Linked DNA regions of Homo sapiens. The protein of the gene in region 1 purifies or fractionates together with the protein of each later gene. This does not show direct contact. Each region holds a gene or a part of one and is shown in the gene's direction. Other genes may lie near its edges. The genes, in order: SLC44A1, NRP2, AGPAT3, ENPEP, LARGE1, CR2 and GNA11.

Region 1 (3,500 bases):
AATCTAAAATAAGTGTATTAATAAATAAGCTAGATTTTTTTTTTTTTCTTTTTGAGACGGAGTCTTGCTTTGTCACCCAGACTGCAGTGCAGTGGCATGGTCTTGGCTCTGCAACCTCTACCTCCCAGGTTCAAGCAGTTCTCCCTCAGCCTCCCAAATAGCTGGGATTACATGCATGTGCCACCACTCCTGGCTAATTTTTGTATTTTTAGTAGAGATGGGGTTTTACCATGTTGGCCAGGCCGGTCTTGAACTCCTGTCCTCAGGTGATCTGCCTGCCTCGGCCTTCCAAAATGCTGGGATTACAGGTGTGAGCCTCCATGCCCAGCCTAGATTTTTTTTTTCTTTTCAATAGCAAGAATTCCAAATGATTTAGCTGACCTATTTGGCACTGATTTTCTCTTTTTCTGGCAACATCAGCTAAATTCTGGACATTTTCTTAATGTCTAAACTAATTCTAACTGGTTATTTTCTTAATGGAATTTGATCATGATTATTGTATCTCTTTTGTGACTAAAGCATTTAGAAGAGTGTTACTGTTTTTTAAGTCACTGATCAAAAGCAGAGTAAAAAATAACTGTTTTCCACCCTTCAGTTTTCTCTGTAGGAATGGTGAGGATATTTAATGAAGAAGTTCCCCGTAAACGTTGACAGAATAGAAATGTTCCCTTTGGGCACATTCCCATTTCGACTACTACTAACCATAGGTTCTGGTTGATACACCCTGTCTTCCTGCTTCATGAAGTAATGTCATGGTCAGATTGACACTTTTTTTAAAAAGAGTAGTTTGTTTATGGTTTGGTTAAGAAAAAAAGCATTATGTGCTTAGCAGTATCAATGTGTTCTTTTACCTTCTATGGTTATTTAAAAGTGGAGGCTTATGGAGTAACGTGTTCTTGTTGTTTCATTTAACCTTGATATAGAAAAAAACAACAACAACAAATAAAATGATATTCTGAGTATGAGAAAATAGCCTCTTAAAAATGTTAGGTATTTTCTCTTCCAGGTAGAACTAACATTATCTCTTGGAGCCTTAGTAAGATTGTCACAATGAATGGATGGAAAGAAGATTTTTTTAATCAGCGAATTGCAGAGTCCATTTCTACAAATTTAGCAACTCTCATGTGTGATACTAAACATTATTTATTGCTATGTTTTTAAGCCATCCATTTACCAAGATTGAGTCAAAAATGTAGATGTTCTTTAGAATTCATCTACTAACAAATCTGAAAGGACCCAAGAATTTATTCAATATGGTCCATATTTTGCAGGAGTTTGTGGAAAACAGTAGGAAAGCAATGAAAGAAGCTGGTAAGGGAGGCGTCGCTGATTCCAGAGAGCTAAAGCCGATGGTAGGTGGAGATGAGGAGGTGGCCGCCCTCCAAGAATTTCACTTTCACTTCCTCTCTCTCTCTGTCTTCACTGACTGCACTTCTTCAGGAGAAGCTTTTGTTATCTGTATCACGCAGGACATGCTGCTCTTTCTGTTTGTGTGCTTACCCATCACTTGGATGGCAGAATTCTTGTCACAACTGAGACCACCTTCTATAAAAGTAAGCTGAAAGGAACAGCATCCTCGTCAGTGCTCGGCAGGGGCGGGTAGGGGATGATGGTTTTTTCCCTAAGGTAAAACTGCTGTTGCTCTTGTTTCCTTTTTAACTGTCAGTGTTTGGCTTTCATCAGACTGAACATTTTGGTGTACACTTGAACTGACGGTTTGATTTTTATCATTTTGGAAGGTGATCATAGCAATTCCTTTCAACTTGCTAAAATTCATACTCCCCCTTTTAAAAGTATGGTTCTGCTTACATTGCTGTCCTTTTCCCTTGGCTGACTTTTTCTTCTGTTGCCTAGGTTGTACTTTCTTTGTTTCTTAAGCTATTTTTCAGTAGCAAACAAGGCTGTTTTCATCAATACCCACATTCCCACTCAGTAAGACAATCTAGTCTTCTCCCAGTTTAATTGTGAGATGGATAAATTATTTCTGGTAGTTGATATTATATATGTATATGTACACAAATATATCTCTCTACTCCACTTTTATTTGAAAAAAGCAGCTTAATGAGTGTAAGAGAACCTTGAGCTGCTTTTCACATGGATATTGTCACTATAGCATAGAAACAGATGCCTCTATCATATATTGGTCTAATTACTTCCTAATTTAAACACGTATTTTTTTAAATAGCATGTTTATTTTCAAATATTATATAATTGTCTGCATCCTTAAATAATTTTAAACAATGTGTCCCCTGACTGCATATAATGTTCAAAAGTGTGAGGTAAGGACTTTCCTTTCTGTCTTCTTTACACTTTAGTAAATGATTTGATTTATAGCAAGTTTGTCCAACTTGCTGCCTGTGGGCCGCATATGGCTTAGGAAGGCTTTCAACACAAATTCGTAAACTTTATTAAAACATGAGATTTTTTGCCTTTTTTTTTTTAAGCCCATCAGCTATCCTTAATGTATTTTATATGTGGCCCAAGACAATTCTTCTTCCAGGATGGCCTGGGGAAGCCAAAAGATTGGATACCCCTGATTTGTAGGTTTTCAACTTTAAAATATATGCTATAAAATAAGTTCATTTAAGTAGGCTAGGCATGGTGGCTCATGTCTGTAATCCTAGCACTTTGGGAGGCCGAGGCAGGTGGATTGCCTGAGCTCAGCAGTTTGAGACCAGCCTGGGCAAAACGGTGAAACCCTGTCTCTACTAAAATACCAAAAAAAAAAAAAAAAAAAAATTAGCTGGGCATGGCGGCGTGTGCCTATAATCCGAGTTACTTGGGAGGCTGAAGCAGGAGAATTGCTTGAACCTGGGAGGCAGAGGTTGCAGTGAGCCAAGATGGCGCCATTGCATTCCAGCCTGGGCGACAGAGCGAGACTCCATCTCAAAAAAAAAAAAAAAAAAAAAAATATATATATATATGATATAAAATAAGCTCATTTAATTAAGAGTAAAGGAAATAGGTTTATTTTTGGAGGGAGGCAGGGAGGCTATATGTATATTCAAACTAATCGCATATTCAACCTAAGTTAAAGCCTCAATAAAATATTTAGATATAAAACCTTTCCTCTGTAACCCTTTCCAGTGCCTATTTTGGTGTTACTCTTACTTAATAGCATGAATAATTATAAAATCAAATTTAAATGTTTAGAATCCCAGAGCACAGATCACTCTAGTACCCACATAGCTCTGAATTTTAAGTTTGCATCACCTAGACATGATTGCTTGGGCAGATGGAGGCACACCAGTAATCTTCCCATCAGGTTCCATGCCTGCCCTCCACACCTTTCTGTATCCCTCTTATTTCACAAAAGCTGAGGAGGGCAGCAGTGGAGATTCTGCCAACCCTATGGCAACATGGAGAAATGAGGAAGGCTTCCTTCCTTCTACTGCTTGGAGGTCCTAATTGTTCAGCAAATCGATTCTAAGCCCAAAACTTAACAAGACATATGAAATCTTAAAATATAAACCAAGCTTTTCCCCCTTTTCTGTCTTTCT
Region 2 (3,500 bases), on another chromosome or scaffold:
TTCTAAGGGAATGACAATAGAGCAAGCTCTAAGAGGGCATGTCAGGATGCTCTTTCTAGCTCTCAAGCAAGAAGTGAATAGAGAGTTAATTTCCTCACAACCATGTGTGAGGCTCAGCTGAGTGGCCCGCATGAAGAATGCTGCACAGCAGCCATAAACTCTAACCTTTTCAAAATTCCTCTTGGCCCCCTGAAGACCCGCCAGCTGGCTTGGCTTTGCTGAATTGCCTCATCCCGGGCCATTGAGGAGGCCCTCAGGAGTCCGAAGCCCAATCATAAACAAAGCTGGGGGAGGCAGCCCCAGCTCATCCCTCCAGGACTAGCTGCCCATTGAAAACTCGGCCTGACCTGCTGCTGCCATGCATATGAATGATGGGGTGCAGAGCCTCTGAGATTCGCTGCTTAGAGCCTCCACAGAACCCATGCAAAGGTTAGCCCTTGCCCTCGTGTGTTCCTAGTCCCTACCCTGCCAAAGCACAGCACAAGGTGGAAAGTAGGAAGTGATGGATGGATAGGTAGGAGATACTGGAATTTTCTGTCTGGTGCTGAAGAAAGTTGCAACTCCTCCATCCGCATTTATTTGCATGGCACTTCTTCCAAATCAGACATTTGCCTCTTTCCAGAATGCTGTCATCAATAAAGAGACTCAATGAGAGGCCCCCTACAGGAGCTGCGGATAAAGGCATCGCTGCAGGCTCAGATCAGTGTATTGACATCACCTAGTTATATTTCAGTGTGAGCCCCAGAGGACACTTCCTGACAGTAAACACCCAGTTTATCGAGTATTTCTGGTTGGTTGTGTTTTTTATGCTTAGAGTGTCTATTATCCTCCTCAAAAATCCTGCTTCCTTTTCTTCTTTTAAAATCTGAACATAACGAGTGAAATCAATTCTAATTGTCCAGCACTTTCATTCATTGCGTGAATGTGCATGAGCTCGTGCTTCGTGGGTCCATGGGTCTGGGTTGCAGTGCTCCCGGGACCCATCTGTGGTGCTGCCCTGGCAAATGGTGGCTGGTTAAAGCACAAGGACCCTTTTAATATGACTCCACCTAGAGGCATTAAGAGATAGGGTGGCTGTAATCCTCTTATGAGCTCCTGTTCCTGCTCCTGCTGCCATCCAAGCTCGCACCAGGATGCGAATGTGTGCCGCATTTAATCAGGATGCCTCCATGCGTCCCAAGAAAGCAGACGCAAGAGCTCAGGAGAGAAACAAGGCCATCCACACCACAAAGGAGCCAGAAGCCTTCCAAATGTCAATGCACTGCTGCATTTTTCCAAACTTGTTGCCGGAGCGGCCTTTAACATCCCCAACGGCCTGCTGTGATCCACCAGCTAAAAACATCGATTGTTAATTGTCCGACCACTACAGAGCAGCTCGTTTTAATATAGTCATGACATGAATGAGACCCAAGCTCCCCTTTGCCCCTCCCCTGAGGCACCTTGGATCTTGGAGGGAGAAGGGGGCACTTCGTTGGCTGTGGTACAATAGGGGCTAGTGTTGAGGTCAGCAACAAATAAGGGGTAACATTGTTTTCCCTGCTGGCAATCAGCAAGGCTTCCTTAAGGATTGAAATAACTTACATTTCTGGAGTGAGCAGCTGAGTAATTGAGAAAGAAGACTCTGTTCCTCTTTTCAAGAGAATCCCTCTCTCTCTCTCTCTCTCTCTCTCATACACACACACACACACACACACACACACACACACACACACTTCTCTGTACCTCCACCCCACTCCCCAATTCCTCAATTGCTGCTCTCACTCTAATAATTATGTAGAGCAAGCCAGCTGTGCCTCCCTAATTTATGAGGGCTTGAAACGTGCATGTGAAGAGTATGTTGCTTCAAGGGCCACTCCAGTAGCAACAAAAACCTCAAGAGCAGGGGGATTTGGGGCCAAACATTTAAATAACCCATGTGACAGAGGCCACAAAGAAAGGCATCTTCTTCTTAGTGCTACAGTTCTCTTTTACATACAGGCTCTGAAGATTGCTCAAAAAACTTCACAAGCCCCAACGGGACCATCGAATCTCCTGGGTTTCCTGAGAAGTATCCACACAACTTGGACTGCACCTTTACCATCCTGGCCAAACCCAAGATGGAGATCATCCTGCAGTTCCTGATCTTTGACCTGGAGCATGACCCTTTGCAGGTGGGAGAGGGGGACTGCAAGTACGATTGGCTGGACATCTGGGATGGCATTCCACATGGTGAGTGATGTCATGAGGCATTCCTCAGTAGCTTGGCCTTTGCCTGTTAATTGCTTTAGTGATGATAAAGAGGAAGAACAAAGACTTCAAAGCTCCTATGAGTTCTTATATGACCCATGGTGACTTTCTCTTCTTCCCCTTCACTAAGGATAGCTTGAGAGAAATTACAGGAAGGCTGTCTACTTTCTTGGAAATATTTCTTTAGAAAAGGATAGGAGACTAAATAGATACTTGGAAAGGATGAGAAAACTTAAAGTGTTCATTTCTACTCCAAATTGTCAGGATAGAAGGTGGCTCAGTGGCTAACCCCTGTGACAAAACAGAAGGACTCCAGAGCCAGACTGGCCGGGCTTAACTCCCGGCTCTGCTACTCCCCAGCTGTGCAACCTTAGACAAATCCCTTACCCTATCTGTGCCTTATCTGTGTTAAGTTAGCTGCTATCATCATCATTATTACTATAATTTTAAAATTGTCATTAATATAGTCATAAATATTGAAAAGGTACATCACCCAAGGCTAACAGCCACCAGTACTTCGCAGGTGAAGACCAACATGGATCTTGGGTCTAATTAGTATTGGAGAGGAACAAATCTTTCACTTTTGTAGTCATTGTAAGTTTTTTCTAATATAAAGGAGACTTGATGACTAAGCAAAAAGAGCAATTTCATTTCCTGGGTAAATCACAAGACTTAGTCAGAAAACTTGGGTTGTAGGCCCAGCTCTGCTATTTCCTAGCAGTAAGAATAAAGAAATCACATGCGCTCTCCAAACTTCAGTTTCTTCCTCTGTAGAACAGACATTGTAATGATACCTTTCCAGCTCATCTTCCAGGCCACTGAGAACAGAATGAAGCCAGTGAAAGTGGCCTGTACCTTTTTAATGAAAAAGTGAAAGTGCTTTTTGATGTGCAGGAAAAATATTAGCCATTGTTCTTGAAACATATCTTTGGTTTTTATGGCAAGATGTACAAAGTGTGCTCCACTGAATGAAATGCAATGAGGGGAAGGGAAAACGGAGTGAAAACCAAGTTTGACATTTTGATTTCCACTGACTTCTCTTTGTCTTGAATGTCCAGTTGGCCCCCTGATTGGCAAGTACTGTGGGACCAAAACACCCTCTGAACTTCGTTCATCGACGGGGATCCTCTCCCTGACCTTTCACACGGACATGGCGGTGGCCAAGGATGGCTTCTCTGCGCGTTACTACCTGGTCCACCAAGAGCCACTAGAGAGTGAGTTGGCCGATTGGGAACCTCTGTCCTGTCCTTCCGTCAGGGCTGTGAGGGTGTACA
Region 3 (3,500 bases), on another chromosome or scaffold:
TTCTTTTGGGTGATGTCTTTTTCTCACCTATTCCTTATATATAGTTTCCATATTATATATTTCCTTATAGATTCAGGATGTTCATCTTTGGCTGTAATGTGTGCATTATATATTTTTCCCAGTTGGGTTTTATCTTTTCACTTTTTTTGTTTTGGTGAAAAGATAGTTTTAATGTAATGTATAATTTTATCCATCCTTCTTTTCTAGGTAGTGCCTTTTGCATGTTACTTTAAGTTCTTCCCAATTCTTGGGTCACAAATGTATTCTGTATTTTTCTGTAGAAGTTGTAAAGTTTGCTTTCTCTGCTTAAGCCCTTTATCTCTCTAGAGTTGACTGTGCAGGTCTTCCGAGGTGTCTTTTGATAAAGCACCGTGGTATTTCACATTCCACCTGACACTCTGTGCTTACATTTATTCCCAGGTGCCCTTATTATTGTTCTTGCTTTTGTAAATGGTGTTTTTTTTTTTTTTTCTTTTGAGACAAAATCTTGCTCTGTCACCCAGGCTGGAGTGCAGTGGCAGGATCTCAGTTCACTGCAACCTCTGCCTCCCGGGTTCAAGTGATTTTCCTGCTTCAGCCTCCCGAGTAGCTGAGATTACAGGCATACGCCACCATGCCTAGCTAATTTTTGTATTTTTAGTAGAGACAGGGTTTCACCATGTTGGCCAGGCTGGTCTCGAACTCCTGACCTCAAGTGATCCACCCACCTCGGCCTCCCAAAGTGTTGGAATTACAGGCGTGAGCCACCGCGCCGGCCGTAAATGGTGTTTTTTATTTTTATTGATTTCTAAGTCTTTGCTGGTGTTCTGTAGAAATGCAGTTGACTTTTGGGTATTGATTTAACAGCTGATCACCTTGCCATTGCTTAAAATTTATTTGTAGATTTTGGGGATTTTCTCAGTAGACATTCACGTCATGTGGGAGTGGTGAAGACTCTGTTTCTTCCTTATATCTTTCGTATTTTTCCTTCCTGTTTTGCTGCCTGGGCCAGGCCCTCCTGAGCAGGGCTGTATGGAAGTGTGACAGGCCATCCTTGTCCTGTTCCTGATTTTAGGGAAATGCTTCTACCATGCTGCCTTCCGGTGTGGGTACAAACAGTGGCCGTTTAGTTCTGAATCGTCCCACTCTGCCTCCTTGAAGCAGAGGAGGCCTGGTGTGAGAAATACAAACAAAGTGACCCAAAAGCAAGGAGCTGGAGAGATGGAAGATCCACTGTCATGGGTCACCGGGAAGACGCAGAAACAAAACCACAGAGAGCTGCGGCCTCCCCCTGCCGGGACGGCGAAACTTAAAAGACTGTGGGGACAAGTGCTGGAGAAGATGTGGGGGCAGACAGAGCACTGGTGCCAGCGTGGCTGCTTTGGGAATGGCAGGAGCTGCAGGGAGATGGCATCGAGTGGCGGGTGCACCTGCCGTGTGCTTCCCGGGGGACATGCTGAGGTGCTCATAGTGGCATGGGTGTTGGAGTCAGACCCCGGGAGCTCTCTCAATGCCTGTCTCCAAATAAAATGAAAAATAACCTCGTGCTACATTCGCCATGGAAAGGGGAAGGAAGGAGCTCCTCCAGGCCGCAACATGTGTGCGCCTCCGGAGGATAACGCTGGGTGGAAGGAGTGAGCCGCAGAAGTGTATGCAGCACCTGACTTCATCAAGGTAAAGCACGCGCACCAGCAAAACCCATGTGCCCTGAGGACTCCGGCTCTAGTACCTGGAAGGAGAACACAGGGCTTCTGCATCCTCTGCCTCCCGGGTTCAAGCGATTCTCCTGCCTCAGCCTCCCGAGTAGCTGGGATTACAGGCGCGCACCACCACGCCTGGCTAATTTTTGCATTTTCAGTAGAGACGGGGTTTCACCATGTTGGCCAGGCTGGTCTCGAACTCCTGACCTCAGGTGATCCTCCCACCTTGGCCTTCTAAAATGCTGGGATTACAGGCGTGAGCCACTGCGCCCAGCCCAAGTTGTCAGTTTCTTGATACAAAGGTCAGAATATTTTCTTAATTTTTAAATCTCTACTATATCTGACAGTAAATCACCCTTTTCATTCCTAAAATGGTTTTACCTTTCTTTTCTAGATTCATCTCACAGAGGCTCATCTTTTTTATTAGTGTTCACAAAGAACCAGCTATCAGTCTTACTCATTTTCTCCACTGTGTCTTTGTTTCCGTATCACTAATTTCTGCTCATTGTCAGGATTTCCTTCTACACTCTTTGGGTTTATTCTGGTGTTCTCTTTCTAGGTTACTGAATTGAAACATTTTCTTTTCTATTTTCTCTAAGCTTAGTTTCTTAATTTTCAACTTTCTGTCATAAGTATTTTATTATTATTTTTTGAGACAGAGTCTCCCTCTGTCACGCAGGCTGGCGTGATCTCGGCTCACTGCAACCTCCGCCTCCCGGATTCAAGTGGTTCTCCTGCCTCAGCCACCTGAGTAGCTGGGATTATAGGCGTGTGCCACCATGCCTGGCTAACTATTGTATTTTTAGTAGAGACAGGGTTTCACCATGTTGGCCAGGCTGGTCTTGAACTCCTGACCTCAGGCAATCCGCCCACCTCGGCTTCCCCGAGTGCTGGGATTACAGGCATGAGCCACCACGCCCGGTCCTGTCATAAGCATTTAAGTCTATGTAGCTTTCCTACTTAGTTCTGCTGTACTGTCGTCTTGTTTATTTTGATATGTAATATTTTCATTGTTCAGCATTTTACAATTTTATTATTCTTCCATGACCCATGAATGCATTTATGTCCAAAGGCATTGAGGATTTTAGGTTGTTTTTATTATGATTTCAGCTGAAAAGCCTCATGGGCAGAGGGATATAGTCTGTATAGCACTGAGTCTCTGGCATTTCTTTAAGGATTGAATTCTATTATGTATCTTCTGGCTTATAAAGTTGCGGTTAGGAAGCCAGCTGTCATTTCAATTGTCCTTCCTGTGTCAGTAGTAAGCTTTTTGTCTGGCTGCTTTTATAGTCTCTTTATTTCTGGTGTTTTTCAACTTGACTGTGGTCTTTCTAGCATGGATTTCTTTTTGTTTATCCTGTTTTGGATTCATTGTACTTTCTGAAGATAAAGTATCATGTCTTTCAGCAATTCTGGAAAATTTTCAGCCATTATTTTGTTCAATACAGTCATTCTGCGGTATCCACTAGGGATTGGTTCCAGAACCCACCATGGATACCAAAATTAGTGGATGCTTAAGTTCCTGATATAAAATGGTGTCGTATTTGTATATAACCTGTGCACATTCTCCCATATATGTATTTTTTTCTTTGTTTTTGAGATGGAGTCTCACTCAGTCGCCCAAGCTGGAGTGCAGTGGCACGATCTTGGCTCACTGTAACCTCCGCCTCCCAGGTTCAAGCAATTCTCCAGCCTCAGCCTCCTGAGTAACTGGAATTACAGGCGCCCACCACCACGCCTGGGGTAATTTTTGTATTTTTAGTAGAGAAGGGGTTTCACCATATTGGCCAGGCTGGTTTTGAACTCTGACCTCATGATCTG
Region 4 (3,500 bases), on another chromosome or scaffold:
GTTTATATTTTCAGGATTGAAAAAAATTGCAATGTGATAAAAATTAAATACATTGTTTTTCTAAGGACAAGCGCAAAGTTCTCTGAATTAGTAGGAAAACAGATTATAACAGGGGCTGCTGAGTATAATAATTGGGATACTACTGATATGTAGTAAATTGTTACTTATTGTACATAATACTTTTATTTCAGGAATACTTCCAAGGTCAAGTGAAGCCTATTGCAGATTCTCTGGGATGGAATGATGCTGGAGACCATGTCACAAAGTTATTCTCACTTTTTAACAACTAAAATTCATTTAACATTTGTTTTTTGTTTTAAGACTTGTTGAAAAGTGCTTAAGGCCCTGGATTTGTGTTTGTTTGTTTTTTAAGGTTACTCCGTTCCTCCGTGTTAGGGTTTGCGTGCAAGATGGGAGACAGAGAAGCCTTGAACAATGCTTCCTCGTTATTTGAGCAGTGGCTAAATGGGACTGTAAGGTGATTACTCACATTGTTATGCTTAGAAGACACATTTGAGAAAAGAGTAGTTGAAATCTCTGAAACACTGTTTCTTCTTCTAGCCTTCCCGTAAATCTCAGGCTTCTGGTGTATCGGTATGGGATGCAGAACTCTGGCAATGAGATTTCATGGAACTACACTCTTGAGCAATACCAGAAAACTTCATTAGCTCAAGAAAAAGAAAAACTGCTGTATGGATTAGCATCAGTGAAGAACGTTACTCTTTTGTCAAGGTAAGTTGGGCTTTTATTTCACATATATAAATAGTATTTAATAGTTTATGTGTCACAGTCTCTTTAAGAGTCTGATTAAAGTATGATGTTTTGTTTCCAAAAAAATCCATTAAAAGTTATTTTCCCTGCAAGAAACAAAATATCCATGTAAGACTGGCCTAAACAATAAGGAAATGTAATCTCATATGAACACATTCTGGAGGTAGGTAGCTTCCAGTTGTGTGCAGCGGCTCAACATTTTCACCCAGGACCCAGGCTCTTCTCTTTCTGATTTTCAATGATCGACATGTTGGATGTCTCATGACTTCCAGAGCTTGAAACATTTTGTTTTTACACAAACATGTGTAATGGAGGTAGGACAGGAGCAAAAGAGTTTCCTGACAAGGCTCTGTCTCTTATGCCAACAGGACAATTGTCTCCAATTCTCCTCATAATCCAGAACTGGGTCACCCTTCATCATTGTGAGTCACACTCTGGGTCTGCTACTTGATCCTTTGCTCACTAGGGTGAACTTGAATTCCTTTGGCTGATTTGAGCCAATTAGAATTATCTGGGACTGGGGTAGAAGTCTGTTTTACCTAAGATCAAGGATATCTAATGGTATCAGAGCAAAACTGGGCTCTGTGAGTAGAGAAAGAGGAGTGTCTGCCGCAAATGCATTTACACTTTACTCAGAAGGCACAAAGCTCATCTATGACTCATTTCCCACTCTGCATTTATACTTGAAATCAACAGGCTTCTTCCTTAATTCATTTTTTGCTTAGTTATAGTGTCTGAGTTATTTACTTCATTTATTTAACCAACACTTATGGTGTCCTTTCTATGTATAGATATATAGATTGTGGAAATAAAAATGAATAAAACATGAATAAAAATGACATCTATCCTTGAGATACTTACAGCTTCATGGGAGAGGCAGAATGTAAACAGTAAATTACAATGCAATACCAATTTAAAAGGACGACCAGAAGCAGTTTGCTTTTACCAGGTAGAGCCAATAATATACCTTCAGCCTCTTTCCTCAGGGCTATATATTAATTCTCCTGCTCTCTGCCATGACAGTTCATCAAGAACTCGATCATCTTGGCTGGGCACAGTGGCTCATGCCTATAATCCCAGCACTTTGGGAGGCCGAGGCAGGAGGTTTTCTTGAGCCCAGGAGTTCAAGACCAACCTGGGCAACATAGTGAGACCTCGTATCTATTTAAAAAAAAAAAAAAAAAAAGAACTTGATCATTTTCACATTTCACAAAACATCACTAATTCATTACTTTGATGGCATTGTGCTGATTGTATCTGGTAAGAAAATTAGCAAGAACTTTAGATGCCTTAGTAAGAACCTTGTGAACTAGGGGATGAAATAAATTCAGGATCCCACGACTTTAGTGCAATTTCTGGAAGTTCAATAGTTTAAAGCATATCACAACATTCCCTCCAAAGGAAAAGAAATTTGTTGCACCTTGACTGACATGCCACAGAAAAAGATTATTTTAGTGGACTTAGTAAACTTTTTTTAAATTTTGGAAGCAACATATCTCACATTTGAGTGTGTTACTTTAACCATTTACAGAGTCTTCCAGTTTCAAATAATGACTGGAGTAAAAGAAGATTCTGCAGCAAGTCCAGGCTGCAGTACGAGCTTCCTTGGAATCCCTTTCTTATTTGAAACATGTGATTGATATGTTGTATTTTCATAAAAGTAGATTTACCCACACAACTGCAAGTGCAAAGAAAATGTAGGACCTTGATTTTCTATCTGATTATTCCCAAGAGTTCTCACACTGCTGAGTGATGAGCCAGTGAGAGGGAGAACAACTGATGTTGACTATCTTTGTCTGCCAGTCTAGTTTTTAAATGAGTTGTTAAACTAGAATTCTCATTGAAATAGTCTCTTGGAGTAAATGTTCAGTCTTCTAGAGTTCCTTCCCTTCCTCATGGTCCTTCTGCACAGGGAGACATGCCACCCTTGTGGTGATGGAGAAAGAGACCTCTGATTTTTGCTGCTTTGGCCTTAAGGTGTTTACCTATTTTGGTCTGGGACAGAGTCTGCTGAGTTTTCATTGATCATATTTTACCTTCTGGTGCACTATCTGTCATCCAGAGATGAAAGCAGTGGTCCCAGTCACTTGCTTCTGTTCATGAAGTACCTGTGCTGTATGTATGGTATTTTTGTTTTCCCATCAGGTCTTCCAGTGTCCCTGCCTCTTATTGCTAGGCTGAAGAAACTGATAGCTTCCCATAAACAGGACCCACAAGTCGAAGGAACCAGGATCATTACCTTAAACTCAGTCATATATTCACCTCACCTTGCCTACGATGTACTGTCACTCTCCCATGCCATTTTGGCATAGCACAAAAGTACATGCTGAACTATAGACCTGTTCTTAAGGGGTTGTGTTTTCCAGTTTCACATGTGGCATGGACTTTATTTAAGCTTGAGTTTTCTCCAGTCTCATTTAGGGTAAATTTCTACTTCAAGTATGCTAAGGGTCTTGATATATTAATAAAAGCATACATAATTTAGAAATACCTTTTCTGTTTGACAAAGGCTGACTCTCAAAGGCTCACAACTCAAGTTGAACAGTGATCCCTTTGTTGTAGTTATTATCTCAATATCTTCCTAAAGATATAAATGAATTAAGCCAATGGGTAGGATGCCATGGGGCAGCAAGACTTGAGTAACATGAAAATACATCTAATCTATCAGTAGTAGACATCTATTTTTGAGGTTCCCTTGTCACAGTGAACAAAATGTGTGCTGACCTTTT
Region 5 (3,500 bases), on another chromosome or scaffold:
AATTTTCTGAGAGTTTAGATTCTAAAGGTGGATGACCAATAACATGGCTGTCAATATCACTGAGAGCAAGACCACCAGGAATTGACATCATATCTGGGAAGCAAACAAGGAGAAATAATAAAGAGAATTTTCTCTTTCTCTTTTTTTTTTTTTTTTTTTTTGAGGAGTTACCATATATCAGAAACTACTCTGAGTACTGTATGTGAATTAAGTCACATAATCATCATAAATCTATGAAGTAGATATTGCTGTGTCCGTTTTGCCAAGAGAAGGAAACAAAGGTGCCAAGTAGTTAATGTACCCATACCTGTTGAATGACAGAATTGGAACCCAGGCAGGCAGCCTCCAGAACCATTGCTTTTAACCACTTTGTTATAAAACTAGCATTTATTGAATTCCTCTTAGATGTCAATACTGCGCCAGACTCTTTATATTTTCTCACTTAAGCTCTTTGGCAGTTCAACCAGATAGGTATTCTTTTCCCCAGTTGACACAAAAGGAAATTAACGGCTAATTAAAGCATTTTGTTCTGCAAGGCATTCAGCTCCTAAGTGGCAGAGGTGGGATTTGAACCCTGGCCTGATGGCTCCATTGTGCTTTAAAACCTCATACAAGTTCACGGCCATCAGCTGTGCTGTGCCAGTTCTGTTGAAGGCATCAGGTGTTAAGACTGCCCATTCAGCAAGTTCACAAATGGAAAAGCAACTGCTTCTGGGCCTAATTGTTGGATCATGCCCGAAATTGACATCTCCCGCAATATCCCTTTTCCACACTCCATGAAAATGGCATTGCTTCACCTTTCATTTTTCTTCCATTTAAGTGGCTTTGGTTTTGATGGAAGTTGCTGTGTTGATGGAGCTGAAGTTCAAGTTCCTGCCCTCCCCTAGCCTGGCTGTCTCACCCAACAGCACAACTTGATCAAAGCCCACCCATTGGCCAGTGCCCATTCAGCTGCACTGGCCAGTTCCCTGAGGGTTTGGGGGGAGTCCAGCCTCAGTGGTAGAAAAGCAAAAGAAGGAAGCAGTTGCATTCCCTGCCAGAAAGTGTCCCATTGGCCACACGGAACACTCAGTCTCACTTAGCGCCTCCCTTGCTTTGGAGAGACTGCCCACAGGATGAGATGGAACCCAGACTTCCACTTCCTCTCTCCCTGCAGCTATGCTCTTGGGTTCCCACCCTTCTGTCTTGTTTTCATTTCATGAAGCTTTTCTTTCCAGCTCTGGATACTCTTCCTAACTCTTCTCTTGGGCCCTGTCTAGTCCTTCACTAGATGCCCAGCTTCCTGCCGTCTCTCTGTAGCTTCTAGAGGCATATTGCCATCTCACACATGGACCTGTCTCAGGTGCCTCTCATGTTGTTAGGTTACTCATTCATTCATTCAGTTTAGTGCACAATTGTTGAGTACTCGTTCAACAGGCCAGGAAGTGTGGGGGACAGGGACATATAAGAGAGGTGACCCAGCCGGCCGTGGTGGCTCATGCCTGTAATCCCAGCACTGTGGGAGGCCAAGACGGGCGGATCATGAGGTCAAGAGATGGAGACCATCCTGGCCAACATGGTGAAACCCCGTGTCTACTAAAAATACAAAAATTAGCCAGGCGTGGTGATGCGTGCCTGTAGTCCTAGCCACTTGGGAGGCTGAGGCAGGAGAATCGCTTGAACCGGGGAGGCAGAGGTTGCAGTGAGCCAAGATCGTGCCACTGCACTCCAGCCTGGAGACAGAGCGAGACTCCATCCCAAAAAATAAAAAAATAAAAAAAGAGAGGTGAAGTGCTTAAGGAGGCTCCTGGCCTTTGAGCAAGGCTTCCCGGGTTTGAATCACAACTCCACCACTGACTACTTGTACTTTGACATTTGGTAAGTTATAAGAATTTAAAACAATATCTGCGTGTGTGTGTGTGTGTGTGTGTGTGTGTGTGTGTGAGAGAGAGAGATTTAAAATAGTCCCAGTACACAGTAAGTGGTTAACTAATATTAGCTGCTTCTTATTGTGGTTATATGATTGTATTCATTTGCTACTACTGTATAACAAATTACCACAAACATAGCAGCTTGAAACAAATTTGTGATCTCACAGTCTCTAGGGATCAGAGATTCAGGCATGGAATGACTGGATTCTCTGCTTGGGATCTCACTGGGCTGAAATCAAGGAGTCAGCAGACCTGCATTTCTCCTCTTCCCAGATCACTGGTGGTTAGCAGAATTTCTCTCCTTTCGTTCCTAGGCCTAAGGTCCCATTTTCCTGCTGGCTTTTGGCCAGGGACTGCTCTCCTAGAGTCTAGTTAATTTGCCACATGGCCCCCATAGGCAGCTCCCAACATAGCTCCTTGCTTTCTTCCAGACCCAGGTCTAAAGGGTCACATGATTCAATCATCTCCCATTTTCACACAAAGTAAAGTGGTGAGTAACCTTATTTATATCTAGAACAATCCCTTCTGCCATATAATGTACCATAATCCCAGGAGTGATCACATACATACTCACAGGTTCTGCCTCAAGGGGAGAGCATTGGACAGGGTGAGAGTCATGGGGGACCGTCTGATACTCCTACCACAGTCTGGCAGCAATCACTACACAAGCTCACCTGCAGTCAATTCCTGAGAAATGACATGGAGCCCTCCAGGAGTTCCTTTTCATAGTGAGAATCTCCTCGTTAGTGAAATGTGCAGATAGCAGATGGGATTAGGGTTTCCTGCAGCTGCTGCAGCAAAATACTACAAACTGGATGGCTTAACATAATAGAAATTTATTCTCTCACAATTCTGGAGGCCGGAAGTCCAAGATCAAGCTGTCAGCAGGTCCATGCTTCTTCCCTGAGGTCCTAGGCCTCCGTCTGGTGATTGCCAGCAGTGTTTAGCAATCTTTGATTTATAGATGCACCCGTCATCCAATCTCTCCCAATGTCTATACATGGTATTCTTGCTGTGTGTCTCTGTGTCTAAATTTTCCCCTTCTTATAAGGACAACAAATATTGGATTAGTGCCACCCCAATCCACTGTGATCTCATGATAACCTCATTATATCTGCAAAGATCCTGATTCCAAATAGGTCCCATTCACAGGTACTGGGGGTTAGGACTTCAACATAGCTTTTGGGAGGGAGACAGTTCAACTCACCCGAGGACTACATCAGTGTACACCCCTTCTTCCTCCACATCGGCTGCATTTGGAGAGCTTGGCTTCCTTCCCTACACCCAATGGCTTTTCTCCGTGTGTCTCAGGTACCACGTCTGGACGAAAGGCCACGCACCCACAAACTTCGCCAAGTGGCGGACCGCCACCACGCCTTACCGGGTTGAGTGGGAGGCCGATTTTGAGCCGTATGTTGTTGTGAGACGTGACTGCCCGGAGTACGACCGGAGGTTTGTAGGCTTTGGCTGGAACAAAGTGGCTCATATCATGGAGCTGGATGTGCAGGTGAGAAGAACGGAGCATCCACCTGGTATGGTCGACGGGGGAGAGGCCTAGATCCTAGAGCTTAAGGGATCCTTGGAGACAAG
Region 6 (3,500 bases), on another chromosome or scaffold:
GAGAAAATTCTCAGAAAGTATAATATTCTCTCTTTCCCCACCTACTCCTTAAAAAGGTATTCCTTGTAAGTCACTCCCAGCCATCCCCCATGGGACTTTGACAGCAGCAGCAGGGAGAGGGGTTTGCTATGAAATCATCAGTGCCATATTGGATGTAATAGGGAAAAGCTGTTTGACCTCTTGGATGAGAAGTCAATGCATTGCACCAGCAAAGATAATCAAGTTGATGTCTGGAGCTCTGGAGCAACCCTCCTCTTCAGTGTATTACTCTTACTTGAATGCTCAATTATAGAAGTTGAAAATGGAGTTGTGGAATCTGGATTATGTTCATTTTTTTAAAATGATACATGATATTTAAGTGTAAGCTTGGTTTTACCCTGAAAGGCAGCAATGTAATATGGTGTCAACTAAACAGCAAACAGAATCCTCTACTGCCAAAGTGCTTCAGGGGTGAGTTGGGCTGAAACTTCAGGATCTAGAAATAAAACAAGGTTTTTCTGGGAAATAGATATATGGTACCTATGGAAAGAGCAGAAGGAAGATAGTATATGTGGTTGAGTTTTCTAGTTAAAGAGTTTTTTATTGTTATTGTTTGTTTTGTGTTTCTGTTTTTGTTTTTTTGAGATGGAGTCTCGCTCAGTCGCCCAGGCTGGAGTGCAATGGCGTGATCTTGGCTCACTGCAACCTCCACCTCCTGGGTTCAAGCGATTCTCCTGTCTCAGCCTCCCGAGTAGCTGGGATTACAGGCATCCAACATCATGCCTGGCTAATTTTTGTATTTTTGTAGAGATGGGGTTTCACCATGTTGACCAGGCTGGTCTTGAACTCCTGACCTCAGGTGATCCACCTGCCTCAGCCTCCCAAAGTGCTGGGATTACAGACGTGAACCACCACACCCTGCCTAGTTAAAGAGTTTAAAAGTAAACTTTGAAAGTAATATCTAAATGTTGCAGATGTAGGACTTTTTCTTCTTTTGTATTTTGGGGCAGTGCTAGATCTGTGTTATTGTAGGGGAAATTAAAAGATGCTTTTTTAAAAAAGCAGATAGCACCAAAGTCAATGATTAGAGATTTTTTCATACATATATATATATATAATTATCACATCTTATCCATAGGTGTGCTTTGAACATATATATGCCACTCTTCTCTGTCTTCTGGAATGCAGACCAAAGATGTTAAATTGATTCAGTTGAGTATATATTATACTGCAGATTCTATATGTATAAAGACAACAGTTCTCGAAAGTTACCCTTACTGAAACCAAGTATAGCACTGATGTGATGAAACAGTTTGGCTGTATCTTCTTATGTCAGTTTTCACTGAAGACCTCCTCTTGGAGCCAAAGGGAAGTTAACTGAAAGTTCTAGAGGTTGGCAATTTTCCCTTTATTCTGAGACTCCCTCAGAAAAGGCGTGCATAACAAAGTAAATGTAAACAATATCCTTCATGGTTATTAGGACAAGTAAATGAAGAATATGAGGCCATTATTCAAAACCTCTGTTCACTTCCTGTGGCTTTTTCAAAGTGTTCCAGCCTCAAGTCAGGACAAATCACCTGTACTGAGGCTCTAGCATCTTCAGCAGCAGGACCAAAAGTGGTCATCTCAGCCTGTACCCCCAGTTGTGTGTTTGAAGCAGCCATTGAATAATTAGTATGTTCCAGGTATTGTACTTTCTCTGTTCATGTACTTTTAGCACTGGATTCTCACTATACCTTATGAAGTAGTTTGCGTTATACTATAGACTAAGAAACTGAAGCTTAAAGAGAGTAAGACTTGCCTGAGGTCACACAGCTATTGAATGACCGTGGGGAGTTGAAACTAGGTCCACTGAGCTCAAATTTCCCTAATCCATGGTACCTCCCCACATGTAACTATCATGCCACTAATATGTTATTTTCATGTGCTGAATTTGCCTTTTGTTTCATTATTAAAATTGATTAGACTCAGAACTTTTGGATATATTCTTTTCATTATTATTGTTTGGTCAAGATGATTTATGTTGATCTGTTTGCTGAGGATCAAGAAAAAGGTAAGAATTTAGGAGTTTGGGAGTAAGCAGGGAATAAATAAACTATACATATTTCTAAGTCTGTTTCTGAAAAAGTTATGTGATCTATATTTGGATATTTTACCTACATTTGAATATTTTCTCACCATGATCAGTATGCCTACCAAGTTCCTTTTCTACTTTTCAGGGATTTCTTGTGGCTCTCCTCCGCCTATCCTAAATGGCCGGATTAGTTATTATTCTACCCCCATTGCTGTTGGTACCGTGATAAGGTACAGTTGTTCAGGTACCTTCCGCCTCATTGGAGAAAAAAGTCTATTATGCATAACTAAAGACAAAGTGGATGGAACCTGGGATAAACCTGCTCCTAAATGTGAATATTTCAATAAATATTCTTCTTGCCCTGAGCCCATAGTACCAGGAGGATACAAAATTAGAGGCTCTACACCCTACAGACATGGTGATTCTGTGACATTTGCCTGTAAAACCAACTTCTCCATGAACGGAAACAAGTCTGTTTGGTGTCAAGCAAATAATATGTGGGGGCCGACACGACTACCAACCTGTGTAAGTGGTGAGTATGAAAAGAAAGCTGGGTTGGGAGGTTGGGGTCTTGCCTTTCTGTGCAGACCACGTTTTGTACCCTCCTGAAGGACAAACAGTGTGAACATGTAATGATGAGGGTGGAAGAAGGAAACAAGGGAAAAGGTGAAAGTTATGGCTTCTTCGTGGAGGCATATAACTGCTCGTTCAAAAAACATCAATTGAGCAAAGGAGTTTAAAGTACATGGAAAAATGTAATTAAACACACCTAATAATTGAGTAGGGTAAGTTTTGCAAGGATGGGGTCAGAGTTTGTTGGGGATGTGGGAATGGGGTGGTTTTCAACTGTATATCTGTGTTACTGTTAAAATGAGAAGAACGGTGGGATCTTATAGCAAAAATACACCCAATGGATTTGAAATTAATGTATAAGTAGCTGCTAACACAGTCTAGCACAGGTGATATCCTGCTCTCTGTGGTCTCTGTAAACATGTTTTGAAGTTATCCACTATTTCCCCAAGTCATCTTCTGAGCCATCACATTTCAAATAAATGCCTTTGAAAATAGGGACCTACTGTAAATTATTCATTCCTTCTCTTTTGGTTTGGTTTATGTTGCTGCTGAAATATAAATCTGAATTTGAATTCCACAATTACAAGAAATGGCAATATTTGACAAAAATTATACTATCAAATTAGGTATTTTCTTAATAAAGAACAATATTGACAAATTTTAAGCAGATTAAAGAGCTGACAAAACTGTTAAATTAGTATAAAATGGGATTCTGTTTATTGATTGATTGATTGATAAATAGCCTTGGAGGAAGGAGATCTTAACGATAGTTACAAAGGGCAATGGCTGCTGAAAACAGTTAAGCCTTTGTAACAATTTAGACAGACATATATGTATGGACATGGAAGGATATCGTATACATGTCGCTAAGTAG
Region 7 (3,500 bases), on another chromosome or scaffold:
CTCCCGCTGGTTTGGGTGCTGTGTCCCTGTCCTGCCCCCCCACCCCCGGCAGCCGGCCTGAGCACCCACCGCTGTGTTGCAGCTACCTGACCGACGTTGACCGCATCGCCACCTTGGGCTACCTGCCCACCCAGCAGGACGTGCTGCGGGTCCGCGTGCCCACCACCGGCATCATCGAGTACCCTTTCGACCTGGAGAACATCATCTTCCGGTACCGCCCGGGCCACAGCAGGCGGGGAGGGGGCACTGAGAGGCTCATTTGCCCGGTGTGCCGGCTCATGCCTGCGCACCCAGTGCTTTGGGAGGCCAAGGCGGGAGGATCGCCTGAGTCCAGGAGTTTGAGACCACCCTGGGCAACATAGCCAGACCTCATATCTAAAAAAAATTTTAAAAATTAGCTGGGCGTGGTTGTGTGCACCTGTGGTCCCAGCTACTCAGGAGGCTGAGGCAGGAGGATCGCTCAAGCCCAGGAGGTTGAGGCTGAAGTGAGCCATGATGGCACCACTGGACTCCAGCCTGGGCGACAGAGGGAGACCCTGTTTCGTCTTATTAAACAAAAGAAAGCCCATTGGTCTTCATCCTCAGTGTGTGTTTGACCAGGTCAGGGGATAAGATTTATCTCTAAGTATGTGTGAGCCAGGGCCACACAGGGAAGGAGCTGTGGGGGTGTGGGGGGCGTGGCCACATCCATCCAGACCGGCAGCCGAAGAGACCTGGCAGGGAGGACATTTGACAGGGCCTCCAGGACGGGCCGGGGGCCTGGTTGGAGCCAGCATGGGGCTGGGGTCTGGAGTGCTGGCCGGAGCAGGGGGTGCCGCATGGTGCGGGAGGGGTCATAGGGACTGAGGCTGCCAGGGGAGGGGGCTCATGGGGACCGAGGCTGTGAGGGGAGGAGGGGTCATAGGGACCGAGGCTGTGAGGGGAGGGGGGGGGTCACGGGGACCGAGGCTGTGAGTGGAGGAGGGGTCATAGGGACTGAGTGGGGAGGAGGGGTCATAGGGACTGAGGCTGTGAGGGGAGGAGGGGTCATAGGGGCCGAGGCTGTCAGGGAAGAGGGGTCATGGGGACCGAGGCTGTGAGGGGAGGAGGGGTCGTGGGGACCGAGGCTTTGAGGGGAGGAGGGGTCATAGGGACTGAGTGGGGAGGAGGGCTCCAGGCTGGGGTGGAGGAGCTGGGTGGTGTGGGGTGGATTCTGTTCTTCACGGGCTGCCCCTGCGGATCCTGCTGGGCCTCCGGGGCTCCAGGTCCACTGTGGCTGGGGGCCGGCCAGCAGAGCCGGGTTCTCCCTGGGGACCCTCAGTGGGTCCTGTGTCTGGTAGGCTGCTCAGCTGGCTGGACTCTGCTGTCCCTGGGAACGTGGACCCTGCCTGCCTGTCTCCTGGCCCCATATAACATCTCCAGCGCTGAGGTCCCGGCTTTATGCGTGCCTGTCCTGGGCTGCTGGTGTCGGGCGTGAGACTCCCACCGCAGGCCTTATTCCCGCCCAGTGCTGGAGGCCAGAAGGCTGAGATGCAGGTGTGGGCCGGGCCAGGTCCTTCTGAGGCTGAGGGGATCTGCCCAGGCCTCACTCGGCTCCTAGTGGCGGCCGCATCCTTGGCATCCTTGGCATCCTTGGCATCCTTGGCTTGTGGCCGGGTTGCCTCATCCCTGCCCCCATCCTCATGCAGCGTCCTCCCCGCCTGCGCCTTTGCCTCTGTTCTCTTATAACCTGTCCTTGGCCAGGGCCACCCTACCTCTGTGTGACGTTATCCTAACCAGTGACATCCGCACAGACCCTGTTTCCAGATCAGAGCCGTCCCCGGGTTCTGGTGTTCGTGCGTGTGGGGCGCTAGACGGCTCTGTCCTGGAGGGCCTCGCGGTGGCTCCGGTTGCGGGTGCCTTCTCCTGCAGTGCAAGCTCGCCCTGGCACTGGCCCTCATGAGGGAATGACGCCTCCCTGCCAGGGTGTCCCCACCCAGCTGGTGCACTGCCGAGGCCATTGTGAGGGTTCCGGGAAGTCTGTGGGGTTTTCCTCGAGAGCCCTGCCTTGAGACCCACCCCAGGGCTGGGGGTGCCACCCCCTGCCATCTGCCTGTTCTCCCCACCCGTCCTCCCAGCTCGGCCTCCCAGCGCAGGCAGGGAGGATGCGGCGTGAAGATGGAGGCAGGGATGGAGCAATGTGGCCACAAGCCAAGGAATGCCAAGCTCTGGGATGGTTCCCGGGGACCCGAGCAGGCGCTGGGCCCTCAGAAGCTGCGGTGTCCTCTCTGGACATGGGCGATGGTGTATATTGTTACGAGAATTCAAGTTTTTCTTCTTTTTTATTCACACGGGGCCCATGACCCCAGGATACAGCTGAGGCGAGCCAGGCATAGGCCAGGTTGTGGCATGAATGTCCCCTCACAGCCCCACGCTGGCCTCTTAACAGCGCAGGCCTCTGTGTCCTCTGTCAGAAATGTCCTGTCCCCTCCCTGAGCTGAGCTCAGGCTGGGTGTGTCACCCCCTCTCCACCATCTTCCAGGCCCTTCCCAGCTCCAGCTGTGCCCTTTTCTTTTTTTTGAGACGGAGTCTTGCTCTGTCGCCCAGGCTGGAGTGCAGCTGTGCAATCTGGGCTCACTGCAAGCTCCGCCTCCCGGGTTCACGCCATTCTCCTGCCTCAGCCTCCCGAGTAGCTGGGACTATAGACGCCCGCCACCACGCCTGGCTAATTTTTTGTACTTTTTAGTAGAGATGTGGTTTCACCATGTTAGCCAGGATGGTCTCGACCTCCTGACCTCGTGATCCGCCTGCCTCGGCCTCCCAAAGTGCTGGGATTACAGGCGTGAGCCACCGCGCCCGGCCCGGCTGTGCCCTCTGTGCCGGGTGCAGACCCCCGTCCTGAGCCTACTCCTCTGCCACCATTGTTTCTCTGCCAGCCGCCTCTGTCCACCACACGCTGGCAGAGGGCCGGCCAGGTGCTGTGGGATGCAGCTGGAGGCCTTGAAGGCCGGTGGGATCGTCCCAGTGCGTGAGGAGAGGCTCCTGCTCCCTCAGGTGGGGACAAGACACGGGGGGACCCGGATCCCAGCCCTGCCGGCCGCCGCAGGCGTGCAGGAGAGGCCTCGCGCTCCAGACGGGCTGTGGCCTGGTGTCGGCACACCCACTGTCCTCCCGCCTGGCCACAGCTGCTGGTGCGGGCCCTCTTGTCCCTTAGAGTCACCTGGCACATCTGTCATCCACCGGTGCCTGCTGGACTCCCCCGCAGACCAGACCAGGTGGATTTCACCACTCACATGCCCAAAGCAGCCCCGCTCTCCTCGGCAGAGTTGCAGGGACCCCGGCCTTCCCTGGGGCCTGGGGCCAGGGCCTGAGGGGCACTCTCCGCTTCTGCCTTTGTATTCTTTCAAGGAGACCAAAGTGCCTTTTCTCGTTATAGAAAACTTAGAAAAGTCACAAGTAGAAAGAGGCAAACGTCCCGTAAGGAACGCACGCCCGCAGACATCGTCTGAGCTGATTTTCTTTCTCCCGCCTGTGCGTGGCCT

Evidence for each region.
Region 2: the proteins of SLC44A1 (region 1) and NRP2 purify together in Homo sapiens (affinity purification with mass spectrometry; one large-scale study listed by BioGRID and IntAct). This does not show direct contact.
Region 3: the proteins of SLC44A1 (region 1) and AGPAT3 purify together in Homo sapiens (affinity purification with mass spectrometry; one large-scale study listed by BioGRID and IntAct). This does not show direct contact.
Region 4: the proteins of SLC44A1 (region 1) and ENPEP purify together in Homo sapiens (affinity purification with mass spectrometry; one large-scale study listed by BioGRID and IntAct). This does not show direct contact.
Region 5: the proteins of SLC44A1 (region 1) and LARGE1 purify together in Homo sapiens (affinity purification with mass spectrometry; one large-scale study listed by BioGRID and IntAct). This does not show direct contact.
Region 6: the proteins of SLC44A1 (region 1) and CR2 purify together in Homo sapiens (affinity purification with mass spectrometry; one large-scale study listed by BioGRID and IntAct). This does not show direct contact.
Region 7: the proteins of SLC44A1 (region 1) and GNA11 purify together in Homo sapiens (affinity purification with mass spectrometry; one large-scale study listed by BioGRID and IntAct). This does not show direct contact.

Annotation. Positions count from the first base shown.
Region 1 is NC_000009.12:105,384,151-105,387,650, forward strand, and holds part of SLC44A1 (choline transporter-like protein 1), read left to right. Parts: intron 1-1,271; coding exon 1,272-1,352; coding exon of another isoform or gene 1,353-1,562; intron 1,563-3,500.
Region 2 is NC_000002.12:205,720,501-205,724,000, forward strand, and holds part of NRP2 (neuropilin-2 isoform 2 precursor), read left to right. Parts: intron 1-1,977; coding exon 1,978-2,208; intron 2,209-3,284; coding exon 3,285-3,440; intron 3,441-3,500.
Region 3 is NC_000021.9:43,871,723-43,875,222, forward strand, and holds part of AGPAT3 (1-acyl-sn-glycerol-3-phosphate acyltransferase gamma), read left to right. Parts: intron 1-3,500. UniProt on the Homo sapiens protein: Converts 1-acyl-sn-glycerol-3-phosphate (lysophosphatidic acid or LPA) into 1,2-diacyl-sn-glycerol-3-phosphate (phosphatidic acid or PA) by incorporating an acyl moiety at the sn-2 position of the glycerol backbone.
Region 4 is NC_000004.12:110,549,155-110,552,654, forward strand, and holds part of ENPEP (glutamyl aminopeptidase), read left to right. Parts: intron 1-191; coding exon 192-265; intron 266-373; coding exon 374-478; intron 479-561; coding exon 562-732; intron 733-3,500. UniProt on the Homo sapiens protein: Regulates central hypertension through its calcium-modulated preference to cleave N-terminal acidic residues from peptides such as angiotensin II.
Region 5 is NC_000022.11:33,276,977-33,280,476, reverse strand, and holds part of LARGE1 (xylosyl- and glucuronyltransferase LARGE1), read left to right. Parts: intron 1-3,221; coding exon 3,222-3,417; intron 3,418-3,500. UniProt on the Homo sapiens protein: Bifunctional glycosyltransferase with both alpha-1,3-xylosyltransferase and beta-1,3-glucuronyltransferase activities involved in the maturation of alpha-dystroglycan (DAG1) by glycosylation leading to DAG1 binding to laminin G-like domain-containing extracellular proteins with high affinity.
Region 6 is NC_000001.11:207,464,328-207,467,827, forward strand, and holds part of CR2 (complement receptor type 2 isoform 1 precursor), read left to right. Parts: intron 1-2,198; coding exon 2,199-2,585; intron 2,586-3,500. UniProt on the Homo sapiens protein: Serves as a receptor for various ligands including complement component CD3d, HNRNPU OR IFNA1. When C3d is bound to antigens, attaches to C3d on B-cell surface and thereby facilitates the recognition and uptake of antigens by B-cells.
Region 7 is NC_000019.10:3,114,862-3,118,361, forward strand, and holds part of GNA11 (guanine nucleotide-binding protein subunit alpha-11), read left to right. Parts: intron 1-82; coding exon 83-211; intron 212-3,500. UniProt on the Homo sapiens protein: Guanine nucleotide-binding proteins (G proteins) function as transducers downstream of G protein-coupled receptors (GPCRs) in numerous signaling cascades.